4 linked regions of the Homo sapiens genome follow. The protein of the gene in region 3 interacts with the protein of the main gene of each other region in a pairwise test. Each region holds a gene or a part of one and is shown on either strand. Other genes may lie near its edges.

What was found.
Region 1: the proteins of TM4SF4 (region 3) and GLP1R interact in a protein complementation assay, tested with the Homo sapiens proteins (one study listed by BioGRID).
Region 2: the proteins of TM4SF4 (region 3) and KCNK5 interact in binary tests that used the Homo sapiens proteins (3 or more experiments, as listed by UniProt).
Region 4: the proteins of TM4SF4 (region 3) and MEP1B interact in a protein complementation assay, tested with the Homo sapiens proteins (one study listed by IntAct).

Annotation. Positions count from the first base shown.
Region 1 is NC_000006.12:39,072,763-39,079,785, reverse strand, and holds part of GLP1R (glucagon-like peptide 1 receptor precursor), read right to left. Parts: intron 6,925-7,023; coding exon 6,771-6,924; intron 6,177-6,770; coding exon 6,017-6,176; intron 5,473-6,016; exon of another isoform or gene 5,405-5,472; intron 2,257-5,404; exon of another isoform or gene 1,873-2,256; intron 1,465-1,872; coding exon 1,404-1,464; exon of another isoform or gene 1,319-1,403; intron 890-1,318; exon of another isoform or gene 830-889; coding exon 760-829; intron 675-759; coding exon 586-674; intron 223-585; coding exon 84-222; intron 1-83.
Region 2 is NC_000006.12:39,191,456-39,198,478, forward strand, and holds part of KCNK5 (potassium channel subfamily K member 5), read right to left. Parts: intron 4,533-7,023; coding exon 4,421-4,532; intron 3,306-4,420; coding exon 3,139-3,305; intron 2,883-3,138; coding exon 2,714-2,882; intron 301-2,713; coding exon 1-300. UniProt on the Homo sapiens protein: K(+) channel that conducts voltage-dependent outward rectifying currents upon membrane depolarization. Voltage sensing is coupled to K(+) electrochemical gradient in an 'ion flux gating' mode where outward but not inward ion flow opens the gate.
Region 3 is NC_000003.12:149,469,966-149,477,708, reverse strand, and holds the start of TM4SF4 (transmembrane 4 L6 family member 4), read right to left. Parts: upstream 3,013-7,743; 5' UTR 2,832-3,012; coding exon 2,658-2,831; intron 1,887-2,657; coding exon 1,797-1,886; intron 1-1,796. UniProt on the Homo sapiens protein: Regulates the adhesive and proliferative status of intestinal epithelial cells. Can mediate density-dependent cell proliferation.
Region 4 is NC_000018.10:32,185,710-32,193,040, reverse strand, and holds the start of MEP1B (meprin A subunit beta isoform 1 precursor), read right to left. Parts: upstream 3,003-7,331; 5' UTR 2,971-3,002; coding exon 2,908-2,970; intron 1,220-2,907; coding exon 1,201-1,219; intron 396-1,200; coding exon 351-395; intron 268-350; coding exon 224-267; intron 1-223. UniProt on the Homo sapiens protein: Membrane metallopeptidase that sheds many membrane-bound proteins. Exhibits a strong preference for acidic amino acids at the P1' position. Known substrates include: FGF19, VGFA, IL1B, IL18, procollagen I and III, E-cadherin, KLK7, gastrin, ADAM10, tenascin-C.

The sequences.
Region 1 (7,023 bases), on a different chromosome or scaffold from region 3:
TTCCATCTGCATGATGCAGGCTGGTGTCTGTCCCACCCCCACTCTAGGACTTTACAAGCAAGTGTCCCCAAGCATGAAGTCACCTGGAAGGAGGTGAAGGAGAGCTCTGTAAACAGCTTGATGAAGCGCAGGGTCCCCCGGGCGTGCTCGTCCATCACAAAGGCAAAGATGACCTCATGAGTCCCCAGCAGGGGGATGAGTGTCAGCGTGGACTTGGCAAGTCTGAGGGGCAGGGCAGAGATCTCGAGTCATTCTGGACCTCTCCCATGGACTCTTCTTCCCTTTCTCTACCCTCCCCACTTCCTACCAAGTCCTGATATCTGGGTCATGGATGTTCTCCCACCCCAAATACCCTGGGACAGGCTGCCTGGAGGGAAAGAATAGAGGTCAAGACCCCAACAAGTCCAGGGGCTGCCCAGAGACAGGGCAAAAGCAAGGGTTTGGGGTCCAAGGCCAGGCCTGGGTGGAAGGAGAGGGTAGTGTAGGGCTCTAAGCTAAGCATCCCAGGATCTCTCTCTCTCTCTCTGCTAGAAGGAAAGGGGCACTTGCTGAGGGTCCTCAGTAAAGCCAGCTCAGTTACATCACCTGCATTTGATGTCTGTCTTGCACATGAGATTGGCCTTCAGTTTGGATACCACGATGCAGATGACCCGAACAAAGATGAGGAAGTTCACCTGCGGGGTGGGGCCGGGGATTGGCAGGGGGCACCAGCCCAGCCCTATCATAGCTGCCACTCCCATCCCTGACACCATCACTCACCCCAATGGCAAAGAGAATGGGCAGCCGGATAATGAGCCAGTAGTTCATGTTGGAGTTCCTGGTCCAGCAGCTGGGGAGGGAGAGAGATGCACACATGCATCCAGCAGGACTCACAGGACCCCCAGCTCAGGTGCAGGCACAGAGGCCGCCAATGCACATGGCCATGTTGAGTGCCACACACACAGCTCCCAGGAGCCACCCAAAAACCAGTCCCATGGACCCACAGAGCCCTGCCAGTGCACAGCCACACAACACACACGCATAGTCCAAATACACAGTCATACACAGAGATGCACACAGCCCCCAAACAAGCTTTCAAGGACCTACCAACACAGTCATGTGTGTACCCAGCATCATATACAAAATGACACAAACATTTCACTTGCAGATATTACAGAAAAACCTGCAGGAGGGCACCATGTACCCCACAGACCCAGTTCCGTTAGTCATCAAACAATCCTGGGACAGGGGCAGGGGCAGGGGCAGGGGCAGGGAGGGGAGATTAGAGAACTAAATTCACCTTCTAAGCTCCTGGTACCCCCCTTTATCCTCTCAACAGATGGGTGCCCCAGGTACCAAGGAATCCCATGGACCTTGAGGATGGGGACCTGGGCACACCCGCCCCCTTGGAGCAGGACACTCACCCCTCGTCCTCATAGAGGTACTTGACAATGCCCCAGGGGACAACAAACAGCAGGGGAACACCTAAGAGAGAGGGAAAGACAGAAGGGGAGAGGGGCTGGCAGGCCAGAGCCACAGTCTACATGCCGAGGCCTCTCCCTGCCCCAAGCCCCTCACACTTCCAGCCCCTCTCCTTGCCTGGCCTCCAACTATGTTTTCTAGTTTTTTTCTGGGCACCTGGGAGAACAGAGGCAGCAGGAGCCCCATGCGGACCCCCAGACTCTTCCTTACAGAGAGGTCCTCATCAGTCATCAGTCCCCCACCTCCTGTGTGCCAGGCACACTGTCAGGACTTGCCCTCAGAGTCCCGGCTAAGTTACCAGGCCACAGACACACAAACAGCAGCGGGACTGGGCCATGCGGTGGGGACAGCATGACGGATGAGGCAAGGAGCAGGCGAACCCTCTGATGCCCATTTTCTCTCTTGCTTCAGCCCACGTTGCCAGTCAACTCCTAAAGGCACTGGATGTCCTTTCAGTCATCTCTTCCCTACCACTGTGCACCTTCAAGAGGGCTCGGCAGAATCCTGGAATGGAGACAGGAGCCCAGTCCTTGATGCCAGCTGACCAACTAACTGTCCGCAGTGGCCTACAATAACAACAGCTACAACAATACTACTTTCCACTCGGCTGAGACTTGACTTGTGTAGTAGACAGCCTCTAAGATGGCCCCTAGGGATCCCCACCTCCTGTGCTCATACCCTTGGGTAGTTAGTCCACGTTGTATCAGCATTGTTTCATGTGACCCAGGAACCTCTGGCAGAAGTGATGGCATGTCACTTCTGATTGTTATAAAAGACACTGTGGCTTGTTTTGCATTCTCTTTCTCTTTCTCTGATCACTTGCTCTGGGGGAAACCAGTTGCCATGTGCTGAGAGAACTCAGAAGGCCTAGATGGAGGTCTCTGCAGCAAGAAATGGAGGCCTCCAGCCTTTGGCCAGCAACTGCGGCTTCCTGCCAACTGCCTCTTGAATGAGCTTGGAAGTAGATTCTCCATCCCCAGTTAAGCCTTGAGATGACAGCAACCCTGGTGACAGCTGGCTGCTTCTCTGAGAGTGCCCTGATCCTAGAAGGAGGTCTCAGAGAGAAGGGACAGCAGGGGGTGGGGGATGCCCAAGAAGGAAGTTTCTATATGTGTATGTGATTCAGGAAATCCACATGCTCTTGCCTAAAGAGTTTTCTCTGTGAGATCCTGAGCCACAAGGTACCCAGCTAAGTTGAACCGAGATTGCAGGCCACAGGAACTGTGAGATAACAATGGTTCGTTGTTTTAAGTAGCTAAGTTTCAGGGTTAATCGTTCTGCAGCAATAGAGAATTAATACAACTGGTTCCCAGTTCCTTGAGGGTAGAGCCTGGGCCTCACTCACCTTCAGAGCCTCAATGCCCAGATCACCCTGAGAGCTCAGGGTCTGTGTTGGTTGATTTAAAATTGGATTTTCCTTCCTCACATGACATATGAGGAGATGGATCAGGGACTCAGAAGGGCACAGGTGGGGCTCGAATTCAGGGCTGCAATCCCATACCCACTCCCACCGCCCTCAATGGCCTTCTGCACTGGCTGTCTCCATGCTCGTCTCCGTTGGCCCCTCCCTCAGTGTTGGAGATGTGTCTGAGATAGGTAAGCATGTGCATATTAAGGTATGTAGACATGTGTGTGTGAGGGTGTGGTGGGTGGACCATGAGTGTGCACGTATGACTTTGGGAATCTCTGCCTGGAGCACATTTCCAGGACAGAACCACTTCATAGCCTTTCCTGTCACCATTGTCTATGTCTTTAGCACATCAGTGTCCACTCAACAGCAGCTACTAAGCAGGTTGTGTGCCCAGATCTACTGTGCCTGATGATGCAGGGAGAGATGGAGGAGGCAAAGGAGCCCCCAGCGGACCAGCATTCTTCATCAGCTCTCTCTCTCCTGGCCCATTGATTTCTACACAAATCGGACCTCTCAGCATCTACGGTGCTTTAGTAACAGGCCTTTATGAGACTGGACAAGGAATGGGATGGTCTCCAAAGGCCCCAGCACATGGTACAGGCCCTGCCACATAGAAGATGCCCAGTGAGAATGGAACGAATGATGGGTGAGTCAACACACCAATAAGGGAAGGAACATTGTCTGGGCAAGAGCATGCCGATTTCCTGAACCACGTACACATGCAGAAGCTTCCTTCTGGGTATCCCTCGCCCCCTGCTGTCCCTTCTCTCTGAGACCTCCTTCCAGGATCAGGGCACTCACCCATGTTATCAGCCAGACCTGGCAAGTTTCACTCATCGTCAGCATTTCCTTAACAAGGCCTTTTCAAAAAACACAGTCACGAAAGCCCTGCTGCATGCAAACATTACGCACTCCCTGCTGGCTTCATCTTTCTCCCATTTAGAAAACGAGCAAGACAGGTTGGAGAAAAAAGCTCAAATTAAGACACACACAACTGGCTCCAGGAAGTAATGATTCCCTCAACCATCATTTGCCTCCCTCTTGCACAGCCTCCATGTGGGTTTCTACAGGCCCCCAACTGCCTGGGGACTGCAGCAGAAGCTGCCATGCCCTTTGGGGGACCTCTCCAACTGTGTCAGAGTCCTAATTTTAATTCTTCCACTTGCACATGAAGCTGAAAGTTGTTTCCCAAGTATCCCAGCTTGGGCAAGGCCTCCTGGCATCACGTCTGAGCTCCTAGCAACCTGTGAATCTCTCTCCGTCTCCCCCACCCCAATCCTCAAGAAAAAGGTGTTCTGATTAGAGCAGGGTGTCCTCCGGGTCTTGCCCTTGTGCTCCCACAGACCCCGAGCCCTGAGCTAGGGTGTGAGGTGGTAGGAAAAGGACTTGGCACTCCCTCCCCCATCTCCCACTCAGAGACCTCTAGGGCAGTGTGTCCCCACCAAACTCCAGCCACCCCCGCTCCTCTGCACACATCACACACGTCCCTTGATTGTTCCTGCCCTCGGGTCGCCATGGTGACAGGCACTAACAGCGCTGATGCTATTTCCTAGAATGGACAGACACCGTCCCCCACCCTGAAGACAGCCTTCCCTGAGCTGCCCTCGATGGCCTCCCTCCTCCTGCTCTAGCAGGAGGAAGAAGCCTCGGGGAGAAAAGGCCAAGGAAGGGACTGGGTTCTGGGAGTGGAGGAGGCAGGTGAGGAGCAGGGATCTGTGAGCAGGAGCCAGGCCTACCTGCCCACCTGTGCAGAGGCCTGAGCCTGCTCAGGGGTGCTGCAGGGGACTGAAGGGATGCAGCCCAGGCAAGAGAACAGGGCATGATGGCCGCAGGCCCAGAGCCTGGGAGTCAGGAGGCCTGGGTTCCAGGGCCTGCTCTGCCTGTAAGGCCCTGCCAGCTCTGGGCCTTGGTGTCCTCAAGACACTGGTCACATTAAAATCTCTCAGGCTACTCTTCTCCTGGGGGGTGGGGGGAGCTGTATAGAGAAAAATGGCTGAGGAACACCAGTAAAAATAAATGAAGTGCAAGGACAGGGGATGGAGAGCTTGAGAGGGCAGAGAGCACAGAACCACGAGGACTGGTGGCCTGAGGCAGCTTCCTGAAGAGGCAGCGGACACCCTGGTGTGGGAAGGATGCTCCCTGAACATTCCTGCATGGAGAACAGCCTTGCAAAGGCTCAGGGACAGGACCATTGTCAGGGAAGAGGAGTCTGGATGTGACTGAGCTGGAAAGTCCCCGGAGGTCCGTGGCAGGGGCAGCCGTGGTCAGAGCAGCGTGAGGTGGGCGCATGAAGGAAGGAGGAGTGAATGAAGGAGTGGCAAGCAGGGCGGGGGATGGTGTGGAACAGGAAAACTCATGGATTCAATGGCAGATTAGGGAGGACAGAGGGCAGGGCCTATTCTCTGGGTACCGTGGGTCCCTCCAGAAAGGCCTGTTGCATGTTTTCCCAGGGGTGAAGGGGATCCCAGCCCCCTTCCCAACCCCAATGCTGCCCCTCATTACAATCCCACGTGGTGAGAGGCAGAAGCACAACCAGAAATGTTCCAGCAAAAAAAAAGACACAATGGTTCTTGGCAAACTTTTTTGGCTAGAACATTTCCAGCTGGGCTCCAGGCACATCCGCCGTCCACCCTTTCCTTGGCTGGCCTCTGGCCCCCCTGCCCCACTGTACTTGGCTCTCCTCTGAGCCCTCCTCTTCATCGTCATGTGACAGAGCACCAGCAGGCTCCCCCCAGCCAGCCCCCTACCCTCTTGATCCCCTCCCCACCTTGAGGCCCAGGACTCACCATTTCCCTCAGGCCCTCGGGCTGCCCGGGACTGGGTGTGAACTTATGTCCCCATGTGGTCTTAAGAGAACAGTGCCATGACCTCCAGTGGTGTGCATGATAGTGGTAGAGGGTGGTGTTTGGCCACATGCGGTGGAGGCTTCCATTAAGGGAGGAGAGTTATGCAGAGGAGGGGAGGACCATAACCCCCTACGGCATCTTAACAGCACCGGGGCAGAAGGTCCTGTGCCCAGGAAGAGGGTTACCCAGTGGGCCTTGCCCCTTGCTCAGCAGTGCGTTCCAAGTACCATGTTAGAAGAGGGGTCAAGGTCTCCCACCCCCGTGCCACAGGTCCAGGGTGGGTGATGGCGGTTCTTACCCCAGCCTATGCTCACGTAGAGCCTGAAGATCCATTGCTCAGATAAGACCGAGAAGGCCAGCAGTGTGTACAGGTACACGCCCTCCACCAAGAGCCAGTAGTAATTGGCCGCCACACAGTACTGCATGAGCAGAAACACCAGGCGGCAGCTCAGAGAGTCCTGGGGGTAGAGGAAGGGTGTCATGGGGACAACAGCTCTGCCCTCTGCCTCTCTTGATACCACTCCCCGTCCTGCTCCAGCCACTATCCTGCCATGGTTAATGCAGGAGGAGAGAGCTCACATCTCTGGCTAGGGCTAGTGCTAAGGACTTTATCTGCTTTAGCTCATTGAATCCTCACTATCCTGATTGGAAGAAAGTAATGTATCCCCCTGCAGGTGAGAAGTAAGTGACTTCTCACCTATTTCTCAGCCTCAGAGAAGTAAGTGACTTGCCTAAAAGTGTACAGATAGTAAGTGACAGAGCTGACATTCAAACTCAAGTGTGTCTCCAAAGACTACTCTTTTGTGTCAGACTGAGAATTCCCTAGGGCAGTGTCTCCTCCCTTAGATTGGGAGCTCCCTAAGGTAGACTGCCTCTCTCAGCAGACTGGAGGGTCCCAAGGCGAACTGCCTCTCCCATCAGACTGGGGGCTCCCGAAGGGCCAGGACTGTTCGGCTCTTGTCTTCTCCTGTCCCAGGCCTGTCTAGGGTGGCAGAGGCAGGCCTCCTCCAACCGCCCATCCCTCCTGAGGCGGTCCTGGATGCACCACACACCTGGTAGGAGAGGAGCCCATCCCACTGGTGCTGCTGGGCGGCTGTGCTATACATCCACTTCAGGGCTGCGTCCTTGATGAAGACGGACAATGCTCGCAGGATGAAGGATGCAAACAGGTTCAGGTGGATGTAGTTCCTGGTGCAGTGCAGGTGTCTGAGGGAGAAAGCAGGGCCTTTCCCTGGCAAGGCAGCCAACAGTTCTGCTCTACAACCCCAGGCTCTCAAGCTAACACACACATTAGGCATGTTTCCA
Region 2 (7,023 bases), on a different chromosome or scaffold from region 3:
CCTTCTTCCCGATCTGCTTGATGAGGTCGTTGTAGGTCTCTTCCTTCTTGGAAAGAAAGCTGAAGATGTTGACGTCCTTGGAGGCTGTGCTCCCCTTCACCTGCAGGGCCTTCCGGGAGTGTGGGGAGCTCTCAAAGGACTCCTTCCGTCGCCGCCGCCGCTTCTTAATGGCTTTGTGGACTTCCACAAACATGCTCACCTTCCAGTTGACAAAAAGGGACAGCCAGGCCAGCCCCAAGTAGATCCAGAGCTCCACGAAGTAGCGGTACAGGGCGTGGTAGTTGGCGCTGGGGTTCACACCTGAGCGGACAGGCAGTCCAGAGGTCAGGAAGAGTTAGCAGGGCCCGGGAAATGTGCAATGGCCAATGCTGTGTGATCTGAGCAGGGGTCAGGCCAGAGCACAGGACGGGGGTGCAGTGGGATAGAAAGGGGCCTGTTCTAGACCCTGGACTATCCCATCTTCCTCAAGGGCTTGGGCCTGCCATCATTCATGACCCCATCCCAGTCTCCAGCCTGTCTCTGAGTCTCGGTTTCCTCAACTAGAAACGTCAAGACAGGCCAGGCATGGTGGCTCACGTCTGCAATCCCAGCACTTTGGGAGGTCAAGGCAGGTGGATCACTTGAGGTCAGGAGTTCGAAACCAGTCTGACCAACATGGTAAAACCCCAGCTCCACTAACAATACAAAAATTAGCCAGGTATGGTGGCGGGCCAGCTACTCAGGAGGCTGAAGCAGGAGAACTGCTTGAACCCGGGAGGCAGAGGTTGCAGTGAGCCAAGATCACACCACTGCCACTCTAGCCTGGGCAGCAGACAGAGACTCCGTCTCAAAAAAAAAAAAAAAAAAAAAAAAAGTCAAGACAGTGACTCTTTGAAGGAAGCTAAAGGGGCTTTGGGGGACTGGCAATGTAACCGACACACAGGTCAAGAAACAGTTCATGAGTATTTGCCTTTCTGTTAATTCTTCTACCATCCCCAGCTGTTCTGCGTATATGATACAGTTCACTTAAAAACGGAATGGATGGATATTACACAAGGGAGCCCCCAGCACCCTCCAAGCTGGGGCTAGACTCACACTGGTGGATTACAAACAAGGCTGGTGGTTAGGTTGAGATGACCCAGGAAGCACCCACCGTGGCAAGAAACGCTGAACCATTTTTATTTTCATTGAAGGTCTGGTCTGCCTCCCTGACTTCCTCAGATCAGCTCTCCCTTGACCTGGAGGAGGGCTCTGTCTGCTCCACATCCCCCTCCTGCTGCAGGGAGCCTTCTTGGCTTACCCCCTACAGCTCTGAAGGTTCCCCCTACACTCCAGGATTATTTGAAATGTCGTTGACGACTACATGTACAGGCATGTTGACCTGTATTCCATTTGCCCCCTCGACTAGATACAAGAGCAACTTACAGAAGGGACCTGGAGGAAGGGGGCTACCTCTCTCATCAGACTAGAGGTTCCTCCAGGTGCTGTAGCCCGGTCAGTTCTCCTCCCACGACCGGGCTCAGATAGCAGGTGCCCTGAGTGGTCCTGTTAATCCTGCTCAAGGCTCTCAATCACAAGCAGAGTTTCATGATGACAGTAATGAGGGCACACACTGATATAGCCAGGCCCTACCCTTAACACTCATGAATAGTAATTATTATTTTTACTAATTTTACAGAAGAGAAAGCTGAGGCAGGGTTTGGTGTCTTGCTGGTGCTGAGAAAGTATGGCTAAGTGTACATCTGTATTTCCCTAATACCAGAGGCACCTCCTTAGCCTGCTCTGGGCCTCAAGGGCTGGACAATGGCAGGGTTGTGCCTTGTCCACATGTACTGCCCAGGACAGCAGGCCCGGACTTGGCAGGGTCAGGGGAGTGTTTGTGCCTCTCTTTCCTGTTCCTCCCCCAACTCAGCCAACTGCTCCCAGATGCCACATACATCAAGCACAAGGCTAGTGGCCTCCCACTGCCCTCTGGGCAAAAGGGAGGGGGTACAGAACAGAGGCCTCTGGAGCAGAAGTTGAGGTCACTGGGGTGGTGGGTCAACAGGGTCAAACAGGGTGTCAAGAAGATTAAGAACCAAGATGCTGTGCAGGCCACAAACACAAGTACATGTGTGGCTGGGGCCAGCTGGTAACAGGCCTTCAGACAAAGGGGCCAAAGAACCTCATCACTTCCCTGGATTAAGCAGGGGAGGAGTAGGAGGGAGTGTCAGGGCTGGGGGCAGGGCAGCTGGGGAGAAGGCCTCCCTTGTCTTTAAGCTGCTACAGCAGGAACAAAGCCCCAGGCCTCTGAGCCATGCCTTCAGGACACCTCCCTCCACTCTTGTGAAAGATGAAAGGCTGCTGAGGGCGTGGAGTGGGTGCTGGTGGGCTCAGGGGCTCCCTGGGTAGCAGGTACCAACCGTGCAGGCAGAAGGCCCTACTTGCAAGTCCCCCATGAAGCCAAGCTCAGGAGTCATGGGAGAACTGAGGGAGAGGAGATCAGAGACTGAGCAGAGAGGAAAGGAGGAGGAAAAAGGCCATGTCTGAGAAAGGGAACCAGAGAGAAAAGAGTTTTTTGTCATTACTCTGGGTCTTAGTTTCCTCTTGCAAATGGCAGAGTGGGTTGAGAATCCCACTGGGTAAGAGAAGTGCCCAGAACATGGAACCCTACCTAGGGCACCCCCAACATAGGTCTGTTGCACTGAAACCAAAGAAGCAGAAAAAGAGGTGGGAGGCAGAGGCAGGGACTCACCGGCCACAAAGTCACCGAAGCCGATGGTGGAGATGGTGATGAAGGAGTAGTAGAGGCCCTCGATGTAGTTCCACCCCTCAGTCACCATGAATACGAAGGGTGGGATCACCAGGTGGACTAGGACGCCCCACACGATGAAGATGACTGTGCACGTGATCTGCGCCTTCCGCTGATGGGGAGCAGGAGGCCAAGTCAGAGAATAGTGGAGACTTGGAAACCCAGCAAAGGCACCCAGAGGGCCAGGGAGGCAGCTAGAGGAGAAGCTAGCTGGGTACCCAGCCTGACCCGGGAGGGCAAGGAGCTCTGAAACTATCCTCTTGCCATCTGTCCTTACACCCTTGGTCCAATTCCTAGAGGCCTCCTGTCCTCCCCTCACCTGTCATGGTTCCCCCATCTCTGCCCAACACCCAGGGTAGGGGACATACCAGACTCACACCTCTCTTGGTAAGGAACTGCCCTAGTCTCTTGGCACGTCCCCCGAAGAACTTGCCCAGGGCACTGATCCACGTCAGGCAGAGCGGCACCCCGAAGAGACCATAGAAAACACAGAAGAGGCGACCGGCGGGGGTCTTGGGAGCCACATTGCCATATCCTGAGGAAGGAGAGAGTGAGGCCAAGAACAGGAGGGGTGGTCAAACCAGTGGGCCTTGCTTCCAACACACACACAGCCCGTTCTCTAAGATAAATTGATATTGATCTATTGTCAGTACTTAAGTAATGATATTTCCCTTGATCATACTCTGATCATGATCATTGATAAAGCAATTATGATGACATGAGCTGTATCTCCTCCATCATACAAGGAGCTCCCTGAAGGCAGGGACTAAGCCTGGTCAACAGGTCTTCCACTAGTCTATATGGTACCACTGTGCAAGTTATAAGACATGCTCTCTGTGTAGATTCCCCAGAAGCACTGTGGTAGATGGTCTCCAAAGATAGCCATCCTCCATTCCCTCCCTTCTTATGCAACTGCTCACATCAAGGTGTCATCTAATCCTCTTCCCTTGGAATCTGGGCTTTAGTGGCTTGACAACAGAAGCAGTCTAGGCAGCGGAAGAGACGCTGGACAGGTGAGGTCTAAGAAGCCTGCTGCTTTTCGCCTTGGTTCCCAAACACATGCGGAGGCCTTGTGTTTTCATCCCCAGCTGAGCTCCCAGCCAACAGCCAGCATCAACTGTCAAATCTGTGATGGGAGGAGCCATCTGGGCCATCAGATGAGTTTGGCTTTCAGAAGACTCCAGCCCAGCCATTGTTCGACTGCCACTGCATTGGGAGCCCAAGCAAGAACCAGCCAGCTGAGCCCAGTCAAGCTGACAGAATGGTGAAAGAGAAGAAGCTGCGTTCTGAGCCAAACTTCTGGACTGGTTGGCTATGCAGCCTGAGAACTGAAACAGACACCCAGCTTGGTAAGTAGTCATGATCTGGGTTTCTGCAATGAGCAGTCTGGTTAATCTCTTGCATGGCTCTGGCCATGAGGCTGTGTCATTGTTTCTGCTCAAAGAGCCCAGGTCAAGACTCAAGGAAACCTTCCCAGGCATGATCAGCTACCAAGGACTTAACAAATCCCTAAGAAAGTATCAAAAGAATAGCCTGCAACTGATCTGATTGTACCCCCAACAGGGCTGAGTGACCAGAGCTGGGTTTCTAGAAAGGTTCTGAGGAGCTAGGGCATGGATGTGGGTGTCCTACAGGTCCCAGAAGACTTACCAATGGTGGTAATGACGGTCGCTGCAAAAATCATTGCATTGGGCCAGTTCCAGTTGTTGAAGGTCTGGTTCCCTGTGATGGCCACACCCTGTCCTGCAGCATCAGATACCACCTAAAATGAGAAACAGTAAAGGTCAGAGCTGAGGCCACACTTAACAGATGCTGATTGACAGAACTGCACTAAACTCCTTGTAAGCATTTTCATTTAGTCATCACAAGAAGAAGGTGGCAGTGTCTCCATGTTACAGATGAAACATTGTATAGAGGATCAGAGAGGTTACCTGATTTACCCAAGGTAAAGATATGAACCCAGGCAATCTGGCTCCAAAGTTCATTCTTTCACTGAGTCAATGCTTCTCCAACTTACTAGCATGCACCAGGATCACCTGGAAATCTTGTTCAACAGACTGCTGGCCCCTACTACTCCGAGTTTCTGATTTAGGAGGTCTAGAAGGAACATTTCTAAACATGTTCCCAGGTGATGCTGTGGACAGGGACCACACTTTGAGAACCACTGCACTAGATTAATTCTGCCTCTCAAAAAAAGCACATGTGAGGCAGACACACACAAGGAGGTCCCCTGTGCCTCACCCAGCCCTCCATGGAGGGTGTTCTACCTGCAGAGACCAGGTCCTTGTTCAGGGTTGGCTGGGGAGGGGCCCCCCATATACCCTTCAGCCTACTGTAGGATACCTGCTCAGGTCAGCTCAGTGCCCTGTTGACTTGTCCTCGGAGGGCATGCAAATCAGCAGGTCCTCCTTTCCCCCAGCCTAGGACTCTAATGTACCCTCTCCCCTGTGGGATCTCACTTCCCTCCCTTCCCTGTAGCCCTTTCTCTCTCTGCCCTGGGCTGAGCAGCTGTCTGGGAAGGGACAGATCAGAGGGTGAGTACATTTCAGGGTGACTCATAACTGTGCTATCAATCCCCAAAGAGCTTCCAGTAACTGTGGATAGCAGGTGAGAGGCCACCTGGGGATGGGATGTCCCCCTGGAGAGTGCGAGGAGCGGTGGGGCAGAGGTGTGGGGAACTTATCTACTCCTACAATACTGACAGCTGCAAACCTGTTTCCATCTGACTAGGCCCCAATTCTGCTATCACCACTGGCTCCAACCTATCTGTGGGGCTTTATCAGCTGGCAGGGCCTGGACCCCAGAAGTCACATAAGAAGGGACTCTAAATCTGGGGCTCAAGTCCTGTCCCCAAGGAGCGCCTGCAGATGGGTAGGCCATCCAGACCAGAAGCTAGGCATTCAGCCAAATTGCCTATAAAAACCAAGACAAGGACTGAGAGAGAAGAGACAGAAGAGTGAGGGATGGAAACAGAGGGAGACAAAAAAAACCTTGTTTCTAACCTACCCAGAGCATGACTGAGGTTTGGTGGGAAAAAAAGGGCATGGGTGGGTTGTTCTGAAGGAAAGTGTAATTTGCAGAAGCAGCAGCCGGCCTGCGTAAATGGATCTGCACACTCTGCAAAGAATTTTCCATGATGGCACGCTTGTCTGTCAGACCATCAAACCACACAGCTCACTGCGCTGCCTCCTCCGGCATTTCACAGCATCTCCGAGGCTACGAAGGCTGTGCAGCATCAAAGTGGAAAGTGGGGACCATCGCATCAAACTCTGGCCAAGGCAGCCCCTGCCCTCAGAGAGCTCTCTGTCTAGCTGGCCAGACCATTTCAATGTGAAATGGCTAAAGGACATTTAGATACTAACAGGCCAACAGGAGAGCTAAAACAAATACTAAGGACCATCCAATGGGTTTCTGAAAACATCAAATCTGTTTGGAGCAAGAGAATGAGGAAGTACCAGGGCCACGTTAATGTTAAACAGATGGCAGAGAAAGCGGAACCACCCAGCTCTCCTTTGGCATCTACCTTTGCTACCTCAGATATCGATCTTGAATGGGACCGGCCTACAAGAAAAGAGTATATAAGAACATACAAGAACATCTTGAAATGATAATTGAATCACTGATCACAGGTGAGGCTGCAGCACCACCTCTGGTCATCCCCATGGAATCATGGGGAACAGGAAAGATGTCAGAAGACAAGCTGTTCCCATTTTTCACAAAAAGGAAAAGAGTGGATTCTAGAAATTCAGAAAACAAACCTGAACTCTTGCAAACTTCAAAATGGGGAGAGGAGAATGTTTGGAACATGCAGAAGAGGAAGTAGTGGGCACTAGAAACTAGCACAGATTCACCCAGAACAAGTCATGCTCAGCTAAGTGCATCTCCTTTTCAAAGGGTTGCAAAGCCTTGAAGTTCTGTGGAATGTAATCCATCTAGATATCAGCAAGGCAGCTAACAGATGGGATTAAAGAAATTCATGTGGACAAGACACAGAAATGTCAGTGGAGCCAGGATTAATTGGGTCCATTCAAAGGCAGACAAACAACCCTAGGAGGTATTGATCATTATCAACCCAGACTGAGTCTCCACCATCATGCTTAAGGCCTGGTTTTCTTCAATATTTTAAACCACAGCACAGTGAGGACAGAGATGGTTTACTAATCCAATGTGCAGTGGATGCAAAATTGGGGATAAGGATGGGATGGGAAGATAGCTAACACATAGCAATGGCAGTATCAAGATTCAAAATCATC
Region 3 (7,743 bases):
TTAAAAAGAACTCTTTGTAAATGATGATTTTAAATGTTAACATAACAATCATCAATACTTTTTTGGGACTCATGATGTTATATTTTCTTTGACCTTTGAACTCACATGGAAACTGTAATGTATGCACATTGGAGCAGCCTCAGCCTTTCACATGTGCTCAATATTTTTTGATTGAATAAATGAACAAATAATGCTAAGAAAGAAATGTTAAAAGGATCCTGTTTCAGAATGGATAGATGCACCTTTCCCTTTAGGAAGTTAAAGTAAATGTGGTTAATTCATTATTGTGGTTCATGAATCTTTTAGGTGGACATGTGAACCATGGGAGATTACAGGAGAAACTGATCTTCCTCATTTTTCAGACCAGTAATTCCAGTTCTACTATGCTTCATTTCTGCCTCATCAATATATCTAACTCTTAATATTTTTTGTCAGCTCTCATTGTGTTCATTTATATCACTATATGAATGAAAAATTAGAATCATTGGCAGATAGAAACACAATATAGTTGCATTTTAGTTAAACAACGTTGCATTCATTCCTGGAGCCTAAGACTTGTCCTCTCTTTGTTAGAAAGGGAGATTATAAAGGGTAAAAAATAGTAAAGACGACTGGGCACAGTGCCTCACACCTGTAATCCCAGCACTTTGGGAGGCTCAGGTGGGCGGATTGCTTGAGTCCGGGAGTTTGAGACCAGCCTAGGAAACATGCCCAAACTCTGTCTCTACTAAAAATACAAAAAATCAGCTGCGTGGGGTGGCACACTTGTACTCCCAGCTACTTGGAAGGCTGAGGTGGGAGAATCACTTGAGCCCAGAAGTTCAAGCCTGCTGTGAGCCAAGATCTAGCCTGGGCAAACAGAGTGAGACCCTGTCTCAAAAAAAAAAAAAAAAACAAAAACAAAAACAAAAAAAAACAGAAAAGAAAAAAGAAAGACTTATGTCTACCAAAATAAGATCTTTTTCTTGATAGATTGATAGATTCAAAAGGATTGAAGGAGAATTGAATGGGAATGACATTCTATGTTGTGGAAAGATATAGCACATCTGTGTAGCACCAGAGCTTGTCCCATACTTGAGAAATTCTGGTCTAGTCCAGCTTCCTGCTTTATACATGAGCAAAGGGAGGCAGAGCAGTAGAATGACTTGCTCAATTGCAGAATGGGTCCTGTCCCCATGTCCCAGCATTCTTTCCACTGCACTCTGGAACTTTGATGCCTAACGTCTCTAGTTCAAGATCGATGGCCGCATGAAACAAGAGAGGAAACAGAAGTCCTGAAGCAGAGCCTGGTGGAAGCCAGAGGCGCTGGGCCTCAGAAATAGAGAACATGGAAGTGGTGTGAGTGAGGAACCTAGAAGCCTACTGGGGAGGGGAGGATACCATCTTTTGTCCTGTCCCAAGTCCCCTTTGCAGATGAGGCAATTCAGGGCCAGAAAAGGGAAATGACTTGTCCAAGTTCTTATGGCCTCTCAGTGGCAGAGGAATGCTGCAGCTTCATCTCTGCCTTCCAGGCTTGCATTCTGTATATGGGACCCCTCTGAATCTCCAGTTCTGACATCCCTGTCGGTTTGTAAAATCTAATACAATATTCATACCCTATAAGTATGAGGGCTATGGTATTTTGGAAAATTATTATTATTTCACACTGGCAGGAAAAATCACAGTTTTATCCCTTCACCAGCTGCTCCCAGAGTCCTGGCTGGAGCTGATAACTTGTCTCCATCCCCATGCTGCCCAGCACAAAAGCACAGAGCACCCTGGAGTAATTCTAGTAGCTGCCCCCCATGGTAACTCACCGCAAATCGCTTCCCACAGCCCTCGTTGCCGCAGCACCCACAGCAGTCATTGTTCTTCAGGCCCAAGAACACCAGCGCAGGGAAGATCATCTACCAGGAGAAGAGGCACCTCAGAGAGAGTCCAGGAGTTGAAGGGAGGGCCCGAGCCTGCCTGACTGTATAAGGAGCCCCATCCACAATGAGGGATTTGGAGGCCCAAAGGGAATGGCAAAGTAACAGAGCATGGCTGGAGGGGTAATGGAGTGTTATGGAGTACTTAGATTCCATTTGGGCTGACTAACCAGCTTCAATGAGGCAAGATTTCAAAATCTGAGTTTCCATTTAGATGGTGTGTTAGAAAAAAGAATAACAAACTTTTCCTCAATTGTCATGAAGAGTGAGTCTCTCTCCCTTTCACTCTCTCAAACGGAGGTTCCCAATTCTATTGGAAACCAGAGGTAAAGAAATCATTAGGTCCTAAGTGGAAGACGACCACACTGACAACAGCTTCTCATGGTGGTTTTAAGTCAATTTGCTTTTCTAGTGGGTTTGCATCGTGGGTTTGTTGTTGTTATTGTTTTGGGCACTATCTTGTTGGAATCAAGAAACTATGCGACCTTCACTTCGGTTCATGGGACTCAAATGACCCATGAGAACTGTCAGCCCAAGCTTAGAGATTAATTACTTAGTAAATTTAGCTGACGTGTCCTTGTCAGATCCTAACAGAAACGAGAAAAAAATTAAGGCATTGACCTCTCACCATGCAATGCTTGAGCTTCTATTACCAACTAAATATCTCCCTGTTCAATAAGTACCTGATTTAAAAAGGATTGTGGGGAAGGGAAAATCTCCCTTAGGGGGATTTTAAGCTTCCCTACTCACCAAGACACCGCTTCCTAATATTCCTCCGAAAAACCAGATCTCTTGGGAAAGGTGGTCGTTGTCATCTATCACTTTTCCTCCAGGAAAAAATAACAGGATGTTAGCCAGGAAGCCAAAAAAAGCAAGGGGAATGAGGGTCCCCCCCAGGCATCTGGCACAGCCCCCAGTGCACATTCTGGGGTGGTACGACACAGGTCAGCAATCAAAAGCTCCTCACTGCCTCCTTCACGGGGCCTCTTCAAGGGTTTTTGGCCAGAGAGTCCTTGTAATTGTCTCCAATTCAATCAGTATTTTGGGGCTGAGAACCAAATTTCTGTGAACTGTGTCCTTGGAGTTGCTTCAGCTTCTCAAAAATAGCAGAACCTCGATGGCAATGGACATTTATACATTCTCCCTGACCTGAAGTGCTTTGTTTTTTGCACCCCCATAAATGAGATTACGTTCAGAGCAATCATTCAATCGTTTTGCCATGGAGACCAATAACCTCTGTTAATAATCCACCAGCACAGACAAGACACTCACATTGTTGCAATCGAAGACAGGGCTGGAACAAACAGCATTTAGAACCACTGCACCTTTAATCTGACAGTGCCCATGCCCAAATAAAGAAATATTTTCTCCAGACTCTTTATAAATCACTAATATAATTGAGTTACATCCTGGTTAAAATCATGTCTCCCAAGTACTTAATGGTGTACAGTGCGTGTCTTTGTCTTTTCCACTGAAAGCCTGGAATTCAGGGTTATCCAAAAGAGCTTCTGTTTTCCTCAATATCAAAATAATTTGATGGTCTAGTTGTGTATCATTGAGCTCAGACTTAAAAGAATTGTTTAAGGCAAAAAGCTACTGTTCATTTTATTGTCTGATTGCTGTGTTTCTCTACTTGTTACGCAATTAAGTAATTAAGTTCTATCTTTTCCCTACACGATGTGATGGAATTAGCAAAAACAGTTTTCCTAATCAACTTTCTCAGCTATGTCTTCCATATAGGAATAAAGAAACCATCATCCACTAAGGCTAAGGGGAAAGGAAGGTCAGCATTGGTAGAGAGGGAGAGAAAAGGTCCTGATGAGTTGACTGGGGAGAAGACACAGTTGGAAGAGCAGTTATAGAGTGCAGGAGGCAGTAAAACACACCCCTATTAGAAAGTTTGCCAACTGCCAGGGGCATGATTCATTCATTTGCTTTGTGTCACTTAAGAAGTTCTCTGCCACGCCTGGACCAAGCTCTACATTATGCGATGGCCCTGCCTGGTACTGGTATTACATAACAGCTGAAGGATTAAGAGGTGGAACTGGAAGTCTTACTAGTTCTTCATTGAGAATCTAGAGGTTAAAATAGGTCGAATATTTTAGGGAGTCAAATTTTAGCTAAATAAAAAGCAAGTGACATTATTACCATGGTAAGACCTGTCCTACCGTGGAATAGGCCACCTGCTCACAAGGAAGCCATGGACTGGGCTTTGCCAAGGCTCAGAGGCCCTTGGAAAGGGAAGCTGTGGGAAGGATTCCAGAAAAGTCAGACTGGAAAAATGTTGAGGCTCCTTCTAAAATTTCTAAGAAATGAGTACTGGTTGCTTTATAAAGATACTTAGAAATCTCAGGGTCAGGATGAGAAAGAAAGCAGAAAAACAGCAAATGTTTATTGAGCCATGCATAATACTCCAAGCACGAATGAGCACCTTAAATGTTCTTCACCCTTCTGTGAAGAAGGTGTCATGCCCCCTTCACAAGTGGGGATGCTTCTGCTCAAAGTGATTTTTGCAAGCTCATCTCAGCATAAGAAGAAGAGCTAAGATTTTATTTTTTATTTATACATACTATTTTACACATTTATGGGGTACGTGTGATATTTTACATGTGTAGAATATGTAGTGATTAAGCCAGGGTATTTGGGGGTATCCATCACTGAATATTGATCATTTCTATGTGCTGGGAACAATTTAAGTCCTCTCTTCTAGCTACTTTGCAATCTATAATACATTATCACTAACCATGGTCACTTTACTGTAATGTCAAACAACAGAGGTTATCCCTTTGGCTAACTGTATGTTCATACCCATTAGCCTACCTCCTCTCCAGCTCTGTGTTGCCAAAACCCAGGCTATGTTCTCTCTCATAGATTTTCCTTTTTGAAAACAAACAAACAACAAAACATCATCTTTTAAATATAAACAATAGAATGACACTGTGTGTGAGGTATATGCACACAGTAGGAGACCCTTCTGAACACAACAACAAACTGTGATTTTATTCCTTATTACAAAATAATGTGACTTTTTTTGGTAGAAAAATTGGATATACAGACAAGCAAAAGGAAGAAAAAGAAAACCAGCTGTGTTTCCACCAGAAGCAAACAAGGGCTGTCATCACTGTGCTGACAGCTGTTTTCCAACACTCCAGGCAGGTGCAAATGAACTTTATTTATAACCCACTGGCTTCTGACAGGGAGTCTTGAGCATATGAACTCTAAAGGCAACAGTCCTGGGGGTGAGTGGATTGGGTTAATCAAATGCATATGCTACTTAGAGCTAGGCAGCTTCTCTCTGGGGACTGGGCAGCTTTCTCCTTTCTCCCTGGACTACACCGTTTGCTTCTAGAAGTTACCATCATGGCATTTGACCAACACTAGCCCTGTTGTCCTAGATTTTTCAGATGCACAACTGGAGTTACCCATGTATACTGTCTGAGTGACTAGATGAAAGTAAGAAATATTGTGGACCACACTTCAGTTTTCTTTCAAGCCTGAGGTAACTTATTTCCTGGGTAGAGGAAGAGAAACACTGAAAAACAGTCACTTTCCTGGAATGCCCTGACCACTTCAGACTTCAAACACTTGGATAGTGACTAACTCATTAATTGTTCAATTATTAATTGTGCCTTCAGACCTCCAGGCAAGAAGTAGAATATCTAATCTGGAGAGAGGGAATCGTGGGGGGGATGGGAACCTTGGTGAAATTCACTCTCTGGAAGTGTAGCAGGGAGGTCACCAACAGACTGCTTTGGGGGCAAGGGAAAATTGTGTGAGATTCTGGGAATCATTTTTGTGATACTCCTACTTGATAGTTTATTGCTTATTCTGTTCCTCTGGGTGTTTAGCAGTGAAGGCTTTAAACCAAAAAGGCTAACTCCCTTGTTTTCAGAAACAGCAAGAAGGAAGTGGCTGAGGACACTAAGCCCCATTCTGTCACTAGCCTTCTATGGAGACTTCAGAAGTGAGAGCAAATAGTAGCCCTGGAAGGGATAGAAAGACAGGAGGGATCCTTGGGGGAAGAAAAGGAGAAGAATGTGAATATGGGCACTATCTCCATGGACCTCACCGGATGTGAGGTTTGACCATACGGGACTAAGCAGCAGGAAGTCTAGGGGTTCCTTCCAGTGATGCAGGAAGTCAATTCCTCAGCTAACAAGCACAGGAGCAGAAGACATTCACCCTGAAATGGGTGAAGAGCTGTCAATTCAGTGCAATCGATAAGTGTATTGTTACATGCATGGTATGTCCACCAATGTGCCAAATACTGTCCTTGTGAATAAAATAAATCTAAGACTTGCTTTCTGCCCTCAATGATGTTACAACCTTCTACTTGTGACAAGAGACAAGAGAAGCCATACACAGAGGTTAAATGAGTAACTGCCCCTTAGCAGAAGAACAAGACATGGCTTCTTCTGCTTGTCTTAAAGCAGAGCATTCTCATCTATTCACACAGAATATCAGGAAGAAGACAGGGGTCTCCACACATTTGCATTCAAATAAAATTCAGGTCTTCATCTTTGCTTACCTGGATGATGAAAATAGATTGTTAAAAGTGATTTTCCAAAGGAGGAAAAAAATAATAGAAAATATTAGTGGGCATTGCATGTAATAAGAGCCATTTTATGAAATTTTTGTTATGTGTGCATAGATGTTAGGTAATAATGCAACATGTTTTGCTTACTATAGGTCTTCAATCAAAAAATAAAGATCAAATCAGGTAGTGAAAGTTAGTGATCTTTATAAAGTGAGAACTAGTGATCTCTATAAATGCTAAACTGATATTACATTTTTGCTGAAAGCCTTCAGGAGGCTTCCATGGCCCTCAGATCTTAAACTTAGTCCTCCCTGATTTGTCTTCCAGCCAGATCAGCCCTCCTGTCTTCCTGCTTCCTGCTCTGCCCGCTTCTCCTGCTTTCCTGCTACACCCCTCCAGGACTCAGCTCAGTGGTCACTTTTTCTAAGAAGTCTTGTTTTATAAGAAAACTGTTTTACTGTCAAGATATGTTTGGGAAATCTGAATAACACAGAGCAAAATAGGGCTCTGAATGAGAACTTTTTAGGGCCTTTAATTTGCAAGTGCATGTGTAATTATTGGAGAGCTGAGAAATATAGTACCCAGCGTTTTCCAAGCTTCAATGCCTGCAGAACCCATCTTTTGTATCCTGTAGCTGGCAGGACCAGGATTTTCCAGAACATCCTTTGGAAAACTTGGAGCTTACTCATTTCCCAAGTGCTTGTGATGGAATCTGTGTTGGCAGAGAGAAAGTGAGGGGTGATTTGAGACAAGGAAGTATAACAAGAGCAAAGATGGAAGATGGGATGAAGCACGATTTGGGGAGATTGTGAGGTGCCAAGTTGGTGAGCTGGGAGCAGGGTTGAGAGCCAACTTGGCCTCCACGAACAAAGAAATGTGAAATATTTTGTCTAAGGGAAGACAGTCACTATTCTCTAAGAGCTCTGACGCTTCATGACTGACTCCTCCATGCCTGGGCCACTTCAACATGAGTGTTCCCTAAAGCACCGGGGTCCTGGGAGAGGCTGAACTACTAAAGGGCCACATGGTCTGGAGAACTAGAAGAAACAGACCTCCCTCTCAGATGTCTCTATCTCACTATCTAGAGTTGTCATCGAGCTCTATAGAAGCAAGCAATTACATGACATTATTGTCCCTATTTTAGAGATGAGGAAACAAAAACAAGTGGTAAACACTGTTCTGGTTATCTTTTTTTTTTTTTGGAACCGGGTATCACTCTGTCACCCAGACTGGAGTGCAGTGGCACAATCTCAGCTCACCAAAGCCTTCACTGCCTGAGCTCAAGCGATCCTCCTGCCT
Region 4 (7,331 bases), on a different chromosome or scaffold from region 3:
GTGGCTTGAACCACACAGAAATATGAGTAATGAAAGATGAAGACACAATTATATGCATTTCTTTGAGTATAATATATTCATTGAATAAATGTGTCACCATGATTCTGCACCCTTAGAGATAGTTAGGCTTAACAAAGTTCATGCTGTCTAATCTTTCTCAGTTACTCTGAATTTGGCTTGCAGTGGTTAATGGAAGATTCTTCCTTATACTGTTTCAACTCACCCTATCAAGTCTGATGTCACCCTCAAAAAGATCCAGTCCCAAACCTAAGAGTAAAGATAAAAATTCATGTTAGCAAATTGGATTCAAACTCTCTACTTAAGAGATTATGTAAAAAAAATCCACAAACCTTCATTGATATCAAATATGTCCTGGTCCATTCCGCCATCTACATCTTTGATTAAAACAACAACAACAAAAAATTGAACATTATGTTTATAAAAGGAGAAAACCTTTATCATTTATATAATCAGAACTAAGCAAGTTTCTTTTGGCCTCAGGTGACTACTAGATTCAGACTCAACATACATTGATTGATTGATTGATTGATTAAGAATCTCCTATGAGCCAGGTTGGGCTCTAAAGAGCTTTTATGTATGTATTCTGTCCTATCGACATTCCTTGAATGTCAAATGACTTCGGGAATAAGAAATTGGTTGCTCCATATATTATTAAGCATAATTTGAAAGACTAGAAGACTAGATTAAATAGCAAACAAATGATTAAATTTGGTCAAACTAGCCCAATCTACTCATACATGTATATCACTTGCTAGTAGTATACCTTGGAACTTTCAAGCAAAATTCTTAAGTTAAACTTGAATTACTATTTTAAGTTGTAAAGGTGTATATAATATGGCCAAATCTCCGAGTATGCAAGTGAATACTGAGTAGACTGTTATTATTAGGTCCATCTGATTTGACACAAAATAACAAAAACAATAATAGCAAGCATTTATGGGATGTCTATGTGTCAGTCACTGTGCTTGGCCTTTCCTATACCATCTATTTCTTTGCTGGGCATATGAAGCCTGGAACATGGACAATAAAATGTCCCTCCATAAATCAAAAGAATCCAGTATTAGATCAAAGTTCAATGCAATTATGCATCAATTATGCATATGTAATTATGTATGATGTTTAGCATTAAATATGTCCTAGGTTCTCTATAACCTAGAACAAAACTCAAAATAGACTCACCAAAGTTTTCTGGAGTTGCCTGGGAAATAAACACATAAACAAAACATATTATTATAATGCCCAGGAATGGTCTTCTTGGATTCAGTTTATATCTAACCATTTGTTGTTTGTTTGTTTTGTCATTAATATTATGGATTACTTCCTGACATGTATTTAGGATGGCTAAATTGAAGTTTAAGATGACTTTTTGACCAAAGGGTCTTCTCATTTCATATGGAAAATGAAACTGCCTGTTAAATCAATTTGAAGGTGAAGGAAACAAGAAACCAACTTCAAAAATTGGGGGGGAAAAGGCAGAACATAAGACTCTAGCTCTCAAATAAGTGCTCACTTTACACACGATTTTCTAAAGCATTCATGGAGCAATGTTTGAAAAACCAAATAATTTATTCTCAATGTTGAAATAATACTGTAATTTATAACAATTCTTTAAAAAGAAATGTTATTCAAGACTCATTAATCAAGTTATTTTGCATTCATGTTTCTCCCAGAATAATTCTGCCTTCAAAGACAATACAAATATTTAAGAAAAACAATGGGTACATTTTGTGATTAATTTTTTTTCTGAAAATAGATTCTCCACAAATGGTCAATGAAACTCAGACTACATGTCCAAAGGAAAAAAAAAAAAAACAACTAAGTAAACCTGAGAAATGTCTTAGTGTGATTGAATTAAAAAGCTCATAGGACTGTCTGGGTTATGTTACCAGTTCTACTAACTAAGGGTAATTCAGTTCACCTTCCAGGTACTCAGACTATCCATAAGATATGGTCAGTACCTGCTTTGCATGGGTATTGTGAGGGTTACAGTATATAATGTGAAAGAAGGCTCATTGTAAGCTATAATAAATTGTCACAAAAGTGTAAAGTACAATTTTATTCAAATACAGCTTACATATCTAAATACTAGAATCATTTGGAGCGTTTAACAAAATGTGGGAATGAACTGGATGGATGGTTACCATCATTTTTGACATTAACAAGTGCTTTGCATGTTTCACACTATAACCACACACAGGCATACACTCATAGAGGAATGCCAGTGCACCTACAGAATAAAATTATCAAGGATTTATTCCTAATTACACTTTAACATGTATTCATCTGTATCTCTTGTTTGCAATGTTCTAGTTCCTATTCATAGAATATCACCCCAATATAATAATTGTTATTTTAAAATAACAACTGAAGGTTTTCCACTAGCCATTTGAAACTTCATTTAAAACCTTGGGTTGGTTTGTGATACAAACTACCTGATAGAAAAGATTAGTCCAAACTGTAGAAGGATGAGTCTAAACTGATGAAGAAGCATAAGAGAAATACCACGTTATAAAACTTTGTAAGTACTGACGGTGCCTGTGACACTCATTCATGTCTCAAGTTACTGTGCAGCAATCTGCATTTCATTCAGCAGTAAAAATGGAATGATTTTCAAAATACACATTTATAATCTCATCAAAAGAAAACTTGTTACACAATGATGAAACTGAAAGGAAAACATAACTTTATATCAATGTCTCTACTCTGGTGTGGCTATTTGTCACTCCCTACACACTGCCCACCCCTAATCTCCAAGAAGAAACACTCATTTGAGATCAACATTTCAAGATGTATAAAAAACAAACAAAAAAAAAACACTTGTTCTTTAACAATCAATATCAACTGCCCCAAAATTTTTAAATTATCTTCTATATACTGTTTCCTTACCAAGCCAGAAATCACGAGAAGAGCATCCAAGAACAGAAACCAAGACAGATTCCATAAATCCATGTTGTAGCTTCCAGTTGAAAGTAGCTAACTATGACATTCAGGGTTGAATTGACTTCTTTAAAGGCAAACATTATAATTTATAGCCTTTGATCTCAATGATCCATATTGCAGGTCAGCTTGATGCTGTAATAATACCTCCAATCAAGGGATGAAAGTCCAGTATTTTTAACACAGCTCTGCGGAGTTGGTTTGTTGGCTTTTTTTTTTTTTTCCTGTGTCAACAATTAAGTGCCTGGCTGAGACTTCTTAATGAATACATTCTCTAATGTATGTGTACTGGTCCTTAGACTAGTAAACACCACTTAAGCAAAAAATATATATATCAAATTAATTTTTAATCTTGATCTTATGAAACTCCTCCTCTCATATAGCCCCATGCTGCTTTAATATATCCAGTTATGTCCACTGCTTTTTATCATTCACTCATTTAATAAAAATTATTGAGTGCCTATAATTTATTGAGTTATAAAATCCATTAATGTGCTAGAAATCAGGCACACCGGTTATTCACATATAGAGTAGTAACATAGCAATGTATCTCATCCCTAAAAATTCCCATCAAGCAAACACTGGTGGGACATGGGTCATAAAAGTAGGAATGGTCACTGATTTTCTAATAAAATAATGTTCCCAATCCATCTCTTAATTCTTTCTCACTTTTTCCTTCTTTTCTTGGGATAATTTCTCTTTAGAAACAACCTGTTCTCTCAGTTCCCATGGCTTCATATTCAACTTACTTAAGATGCAGGATAATATTTTTTGAATACTAATTTTTGGCCATGGTGGCTCACATGTGTAATCCCAGCAGTTTGGGAGGTCAAGGTGGGTGGACCACCTGAGGTCGGGAGTTCAAGCCCAACCTGGCCAACACAGTGAAACCCCATCTCTACTAGAAATACAAAAATTAGCCAGGTGTGGTGGTGCATGTCTGTAATCCCAGCTACTTGAGAGGCTGAGGCAGGAGAATTACTTGAACCTGGGAGGCAGAGGTTGCGGTGAGCCGAGATCACACCACTGCACTCCAACCTGGGCAACAGAATGACACTCCATCTCAAAAAAAAAAAAAAAACCTAATTTTTTTCTAGTTTCCCCTTCCCCTCTCCAGCTTAGCCTTCACCCCATTTTGTGCTAATAGGAAGACTATCAAGAGACATGTAGCATAGACAAGGAGTTTGAGAGGTTGCTTCCTGAGTACAAGCCAGCACTTCCCACCCTATGAGGGTAGGATGAGAATTAAATGGGAAAACTGAAAACTGTAGTTATAGTCAGTTCTTCACTTGATCCCTGAGATCCCCTAGATATATTATAGGATCCAAAATCAAATGGTCCTGTTTCTTGGCTAGAGCTACAAGGAAGCAAAGGGACTCTACAGAAGAAGGCACATCTTGGGAAGAGGAGAATAACTCCTGGGGCCAAGGGAAGCATAGAAGTATCAGAAAAAGCTGTCATGCCTGAAGAGCCATGTGGATAGGAATAAGGATGTCTCCATTGCAGGCTGCACAGAATCACAAATAAGGACCAGACAGAGGGACTGATATTTTAGAGGATGCCTGTGAGGATAGATGACATCAGGGATCATAAGGGACCTTCCCAATGCATTGGGACTGTTAATTAAGGTTAGGCACAAGCCTAAAGGTAAAATGTGAATCCTGAATTAGCCGCAATTAAATTTTTGACATCTATGTGAATGGGAACCTAAAATATCAATTATTATAACAGACCAATGGAACAGAGTAGAGAACCCAGAGAAACCAGATGCCAAGAACTTACACTGGGGAAAGGACAGTCTCTTAATAAATGGCGCTGAGAAACTGGATATCCATATACGGAAGAATAAAAATAGATCTCTGTCTTTCATCATATACAAAAATCAACCCAAAATGGATTAAAGATTTAAATGTGGCTGGGCACGGTGGCTCACACCTGGAATCCCAGCACTTTGGGAGGCCGAGGCAAGCGGATCACAAGGTCAGGAGTTCGCAACCAGCCTGGCCAACATGGTGAAACCCTGTCTGTACTACAAATACAAAAATAAGCTGGGCATGGTGGTGCACTGCACTGGTGCATAGCTGTAATCCCAGCTACTCTGGAGGCCGAGGCTGGAGAATTGCTGGAATCCAGGAGGCGGAGGTTGCAGTGAGCCGAGATCGCACCACTGCACTCCAGCCTGGGTGGCAGAGAAAGACTCTGTCTCCAAAAAAAAAAAAAAAACCCAACAAAGAAACAAACAAACAAAAAAAGATTTAAATGTAAGACCTGAAACTATAAAACTACTCAAGGAAAACATGGTAGAAATGCTCTAGGATATTGGTCTGGGCAAAGATTTTTGGGGGGTAAGACCTCAAAGATACAAGCAACCAAAGCAAAAACAGACAAATGGGATTACATTAAGCTAAAAAGCTTCTACACAACAAAGGAAACACTCAACAAAGTGAGGAAACAACTCACAGAGTGGGAGAAAATGTTTGCAAACTATCCATCTGACAAGGAATTAATAACCAAGATATATAAAGAACTAAAACAACTCAATACCAAAAAAAACAAATAATCTGATTTTAAAATGAGCAAAAGACCTGAACAGATATTTCTCAAAAAAGACAAACAAATTGCCAATAGCTATATGAAGAAATGCTCAGCACCACTAATCATCGGGGAAATGCAGATCAAAACCACAATAAGATATCATCTTACCTGAGTTAGAATGGCTATTATAAAAGAAAAAAAACGAAAGATAACAAATTCTGGAAAGGTTGTGTTGAAACAGGAAGACTTGTACACTGTGAAAATGTAAAGTAGTAGAGATATTATGGAAAACAGTATAGAGGTTCCTCAAAAAACTAAAAATAGGACTCCCATATGATCCAGCAATTCCATTGCTGAGGATATATCCAAAAGAAGGGAAATCAGTAAATTGAAGAGATATCTGCACTCACACGTTTATTGCAGCACTATTTGTAATACCCAAGATATAGAATCAACCTAAGTATTTGTCAACATATAAATGGATAAAGAACATGTGGTCTATATACACAATAGAATATTACTCAGCCATAAAAAAGAAATCTGACACTTTCAGCAACATGAATGGAACTGGAGGTCATTATAAGTGAAATAATCCAGGCACAGAAAAACAAATATCGAATGTTCTTACTCATATCTGGAAGCTAAAAAAAAATTTATCTCATGGAGGTAGAAAGTAGATTGGTAGTTACCAGAGGCTAGGAAGGGAAGGGAAGGGAGGAGGAGATGAAAAGAAGTTGGTTAAGGGGTACAAAAGTATAGTTAGATAAAATAAATGATTTAGTATTTGATAGTACAGTAGGTAAATTATAGCTAACAATTTATTATATATTTTTAAATAGCAAGAAAAGATTACTTGAAATGTTCCCAACACAAAGAAAAGATAAATGTTTGAGTTGATGGATACCCTAATCACCCTAATTTGATTATTATACATTGTATATAGGTATCAGATCATCATATGTACTCCCAAAATATAAACAATTATATATAAATAAAAATTTTAAAAGAAAAAGAAAAAAGTATGATTATAGAAAAATAAAGACAGTCTGGGTACAATGGCTCAAGTCTGCAATCTCAGCACTTTGGGAGGCCAAGGTGGGGCAGATCACCTGAGGTCGGGAGTTCAAGACCAACCTGGCCAACATGGCGAAACCCCGTCTCTATTAAAAATACAAAAATTAGCTGGGAGTGATGGTGGGCACCTGTAATCCCGCTACTTGGGAGGCTGAGGCAGGAGAATTGCTCGAACCCGGGAGGCAGGGATTGCAGTGAGCTGAGATCGCACCATTGTACTCGAGACTGGCTGAAAAGAGTGAAACTCTGTCTCAAAAAAAAAAAAGAAAAGGAAAGACATTTATTAAGCACAGCTGTTTCTATGAGCCAAGATTTGTAACTGAAACACCTGAGTGAATTCTCTGTGTTGCTACAAGCAGTTCATATTTGAAGTTAGGAAAAGTGGAAGCAGGAAGAACAGGAAGCAATCATTCCCAGGATGTTGGAGTCTGTTTTGAATCCTAATTACAGGACATGGGCAGAGCCTCACTAGGAATCTCATGGAAGTCATTGAGGCATGGCTGAAATCCAATTTCCAAAAAATGTATTTTGCCTACAATAAATAGATATCTTTTACAGTTTGTTCTTTTCTAAGGTTGTCAATGAAGCTCTACTGCAGAAGCTACACTTGGCTGGTCTAACATACCTCCAGCTTTCATCACTTGTATCCTGCCCCTAGAAAGCCTTTACAAGCTTCATCATGGCATTAGGAATCTGATCTCAGGAACCTTTCTGCCTTTGGTCATTGGTCCACCTCTGGTGTTCATTTTTCCCCAGGCAATAAC